Homo sapiens: one gene and its partner. The protein of the gene in region 1 interacts with the protein of each later gene in a pairwise test. Each region holds a gene or a part of one and is shown on either strand. Other genes may lie near its edges.

Region 1 (2,289 bases):
TCTGTTTAATCCAGGTAAGAGGAGGATTACCTTTGTCTCTCAAGGCCAAGGCAACCTTGGAGCCTCCTCTTCTCCGAGACTCCTAAGTTACCCAGCTATCCCCCTCAGTAAGACCCTCAACCTGGAAATCTCCCAACTGGCCGAGGAAAAACCCACATCCACGGATCCATCCCACAAACCCAGTGGGCCCTGCTTCCCTTGCCAGGCCTCTGGTAAAGGGCAAGCAAGTGCAGCCCAAAAGGGGCATCCTGTGGCTCACATCTGCATGGCCATCCTGATTTGGTTTGTCTTCATTTCTCTTCCTCCTCTCTTCCCTGCCATCCCAGATGCCAAGGGCCTCTCCAACCCTAGTGAGGTGGAGGTCCTGCGGGAGAAAGTGTATGCATCACTGGAGACCTACTGCAAACAGAAGTACCCTGAGCAGCAGGGACGGTGAGATGGGGCTGGGGGGCACTGAGGCTCCCTTGGGGGTGGGGAGTGCTATGAGGATGTGTTCAGGGCCCGTGTGCTTCCAGCTCTCAATCCCCTTCTCCCACCTCCACCCCAGGTTTGCCAAGCTGCTGCTACGTCTTCCTGCCCTCCGGTCCATTGGCCTTAAGTGTCTAGAGCATCTGTTTTTCTTCAAGCTCATTGGTGACACCCCCATCGACACCTTCCTCATGGAGATGCTTGAGGCTCCCCATCAACTGGCCTGAGCTCAGACCCAGACGTGGTGCTTCTCACACTGGAGGAGCACACATCCAAGAGGGACTCCAAGCCCTGGGGCAGGGTGGGGGGCCATGTTCCCAGAACCTTGATGGGGTGAGAAGTACAGGGCAGAACCAAGAACATAAACCCTCCAAGGGATCTGCTTGATATCCCAAGTTGGAAGGGACCCCAGATACCTGTGAGGACTGGTTGTCTCTCTTCGGTGGCCTTGAGTCTCTGAATTTGTCGGGTTCTCCCATGATTTGGGGTGATTTCTCACCCTCTGTCCTTCCCCCAGCACAAAGCACTGGCCTTGCCTCCAGGACCTTGCTTCCTTCTCATCTTGCCTCATTTTGCTTCCCATCTGAAGAGTGGAAATGGGGAACTCCCCCAGAGGTGGATACTGGGGGGCAGGCCTCCCAAGCTGATGGACATGAGAGTAGGGCCCTGACAGGCCTTCCTCCTCTCAAACCTGGCAGATGGGGGCCTCTCTGGAAGAGGGAGGGGCCCTGTCACTGTCCAGAGTCTCTTTTTACACTTCACCTCCTTCTGCAGTCAGACTGAAATATAAAAAAGGTGGTGGTGGTGGTGAAGGGGCTGGTGGAGATGTAGGAACCGATCTGCTATTTTTAATTTCCTGTGAGGATAGAGACTTGCAGTTAGACTCAAAGAAGTACTGTACTTTCCCAGGTTGACTAAGAAATGCCAGTGGTGGAGGTGGGTGTTTGGGAAAGGCAGGGCCCTGAAATGGCCTGTCCCTAGGGCTCTCCAAGCACTAGCCTTCCCAGCTTCCCGCCGCCCCCCCTATCTCTTCCTGTCTAACTTGGGGAAGGGGCCTGGGCTGTGAGGACAGGGCCCCCACAGGGGATGGTTTCACGAGTGTAGTCCCGGAGGCCTTCCCTTTACAGCTCTCCTCCAGCCCTGGGCACATAGCATAGGCTGGGGACACAGGATCCTGGCCTGAGAATTGAGGGGAGGTGGCCAGCCCGCAGAGGTGGGGTGCTGGGGCTGCATGATTTTTGCCCTGCGTCCCTTCTCTTTGGGGCTCCTTTCCCCTCTCATACATAAAATCGCTTTCAAATTAAAATCGCTGTTTTCTGGACTGAGGTGACTGTATGAGGATGGGCAGCGCCGTTTCGGGCTTGGGGGGGGTATCCGGTTGGGAGCTCCGGACGCGATCCCTGGACGCCGCCGCCGAGGTTCCGTGGGGCCCAAGAGGTGCACGCAGGGTGGGGGACACAAGGCAAGCTTTGTCGGGGAGGGGGGGAGAGGGTGTGCCAGGCTGGGGGCGGGGCCGGCCGGAGGAGGAAGGGGGGGCGGTGGATTCTCAAAGGCGCCTTGTTCGCTCGTGCCCTCTCCGCGCCAGCGGGCGGCGGCGCCTCGGCTCGCTGCGGCCTTCCCTCCGGGCGCGCTGCGGGCTCCGGGCAGACCCGGCGCCGTGCCCGCTCGTGGGGGCGCACTGGGCGCCGAGCGCTGCGTGCTTCTCAGGCGTTGCCCGCCCGGAGGCGGCCCACGTCCCCGAGTGACCCCATTTCCCTGGACCCTTCCAACCAGAGTCGACTGCTCGCTCATCTTACCACTGCTCCCCCTCTACCTCGGCTC
Region 2 (2,842 bases), on another chromosome or scaffold:
TCTGGAATCATTACAGAACAAGCATCAAAAAATGCTTGGTGAGAATAGACTGGTGGGGTGGACAAAGAAATCTGTGGAAGCCATTGAGAGAGAGAGAAATGTGGAAGGCAAGCTGCCTCCATGTGCTTCCCCTGAAAGTCCACCCAGCCACTCCATAGACTGGACATCTCGGAAGCATAAGCCTCTTCTGGGCACAGCTGTAATCCAGCAGCCACCCTGAAGATTGGGTGATAGCTCTGCCTAGACTTCGGCACATCCTGAGGCTCCCAAACTCCAAAGCCCCAGAGAGTCTGGGGGCTACGGCTGGAAACTTCTCCCAGAAGTTAACATGGGTATCTCACAGCATCCCATGATGTAGGGTCTAACATCCTCCATCCAGGGCCCAGAACTAGGGGCCAGCCCTGCTTTGATGCCACAGCATCAAGACCAGCACACCTTGTTTGCCCCACTGCCTCCACCAACTCAGATCAGCCAGAAAGGTCAAGAACTGGACAAAGCAGGAGAGTTGACCATCAGGTATATTGGGGAAGGGAGAGATGGAGGCACCTTCATGAGTGCCTCCCAAGGGCAGTAGCCTCTGCAACTTGCTGGGGGTTCAGGGGAAGCAGGGAGTTCATGGGGCTCCTCCAGCAAAGATGAGCTCCAGGGCTGCTTGGATGTCCCCACCGGTGGCCTGCAGGGCCCGCAGGCTCAGCTCATCGTCCTGGATGCCCATGTCACGTAGCTGCTGCAGCTGGGGCTGCCACTGGCTCTGTGGAAAGATAGGAATGGGCAGAAGCTGTTAGCTGGGATCCAGTGAAGACTCACTTAGGTCTGTGCTTTCCGGGGAAGGAAAGGAAGATGGGGGAGTCCTCAGCAAAGCTGCTGATGCTGAGTTCCACAGAACACGGTGCTTCTAGGAAGACTAAAAGATAGGCTTGAGGGTTAAGAGAACAAATCCAAAGTTTTACAATAAAAAAAGGAAATTCTTGGCATAAGGATCAAAAGAGAATGTACAAATTATTCACTGTCTGAATTCCAAGAGGCTAAATTACTTTCTTTCTCTTGCTATGTGTACACACACAACAGCAAGATTTTGCTCTTTATGTGATGAGTGTTACAGATTTTTTTCCCAGTTTGTTAGCCTTTGGACTTTGCTTCGGTTTTTTGTTTGGTTTGGTTTGCCACGCAGAAATTTTCACCTTTTTTTAAATGTCTTAAATTTTTGTGGTATATAGTAGGTATATCTATTTGTGGACTGTAAGAGATGTTTTAAATTTTTCGCTTTTACAAACCCAAAATGCATAACTTTTATTTAATGGCTCCTGGATACTGAGTTTCAGCCAAGAAAGCCCTTCCCTACTATAAGGATTTGAAGAAATTCACCCATATTTTCTTCTAGTACTTTCATAGCTTCATTAATATCTCTATTTCATGACAGCAGGGATGAGCACAATTTAGGGAAAACAACGTGTTCACATGTGGGAAGAAGGCAATGCAAAGGGGAAGAAAAGCAAAGTCAAAGAGGCAGGCAGTGATGAGAACATGGAGGGCTTAAAAAAAATGCACACAGATCAATTTGAATTCATTTTACAGGCCAGGTGGAACCAGTGAAAGCTTCTGAGCTAGGGAATAAAGTAAACAGGCATCTAGCAACAGGGGAGATGCAAGAATGGAGAAGACAAGTTGTTCACGAATCCTGCTTCTGTTCCCTCACTGTCTACAAGGACCACATGGAACAGTGAAAACCACACAGGCTTGAACCCTATCGTTACGACTTCATGGCCTTATGACCCCAGACAAGTTCCAGGGATGATGCTCTACCCATAGGCTTACTATGTGGAATAGAGGAAAACAGACGTGAACCAAACTGCTCATGCATGGAGCTGTGAACTACAATGCTGGCCCCTCAGGTATTCCACTTAGCTGCTAGGGTGACCTTTCTCCTCCTTAAAGCCTCCCATGGGCCAGGTGTGGTGGCTCACACCTGTAATCCCAGAACTCTGGGAGGCTAAGGTGGGTGAATCGCTTGAGCCCAAGAGTTCAAGACCAGGCTGGGCAACATAGGGAGACCCCCCCATCTCTACAAAAAATACAAAAAATTAGCCAGGCATGGTGGTGCATACCTGTAGTCCCAGCTACCCGGGAGGCTGAGGTGGGAGGATCACCTGAGCCCAGGAAGTTGAGGCTACAGTAAGTTGTGATCACACCACTGTACTCCAGCCTGGGTGACAGAGTGACACCCTGTCTCAATCAATCAATCAATCAATCAATGCCTCCCAGGGATCCCTGGTGACTGCTACATCAAGTCATCAAGTCTAATCTCCGCAGGTTGGCATGCAAGCCCCTCTCGTAGGCTCCTGCTCTTTCTCTGGCCCCATCTGCGGATCTTCTACACTGGACACTGCATCCTAGCCTTGTAGTTTTGAGTATGTCACATATACCTCCACACATGTGCACAAACAGGTAGCTGTCTTCACCTGGAAATCAGCCCCTTCCTACCTCAAACCCCCTTCCCTGGCTAGCTAACTTCTAACTAATTCTTCTGACAATCAGCTTAAATACCCCTCTCTCAGAAAAGTTTTGTCTGACCTAGGCCCTTACTTCAAGCAGCTGGGTTTCTTGCCTTGTTGCTCCCCAGCTCAGTGCCTGCCTGGTGCCCCTCCATGGCAGGGATGAGAACCAGCTTGCCACTAGCCCAGCATCTGGACTCAGGCCTAGTATACACATGCTCAGTCAATGATCACTGAATGAATGAATGAAATGGCCATGATTATCTAAGCCAGGTGGTCTAGGGAGTCAGGCCATGGTCACTAGGGGCAGGAGAAGCCTAGTGACCACTGTGTATGGTCTGAGAGTGTGC

The links. Proteins that work in one complex are often made in the same cells at the same time.
Region 2: the proteins of RXRB (region 1) and UBL7 interact in binary tests that used the Homo sapiens proteins (3 or more experiments, as listed by UniProt).

The regions. Positions count from the first base shown.
Region 1 is NC_000006.12:33,193,088-33,195,376, reverse strand, and holds the end of RXRB (retinoic acid receptor RXR-beta), read left to right. Parts: coding exon 1-14; intron 15-326; coding exon 327-432; intron 433-547; coding exon 548-695; 3' UTR 696-1,789; downstream 1,790-2,289. UniProt on the Homo sapiens protein: Receptor for retinoic acid. Retinoic acid receptors bind as heterodimers to their target response elements in response to their ligands, all-trans or 9-cis retinoic acid, and regulate gene expression in various biological processes.
Region 2 is NC_000015.10:74,445,477-74,448,318, forward strand, and holds the end of UBL7 (ubiquitin-like protein 7), read right to left. Parts: intron 752-2,842; coding exon 614-751; 3' UTR 501-613; downstream 1-500.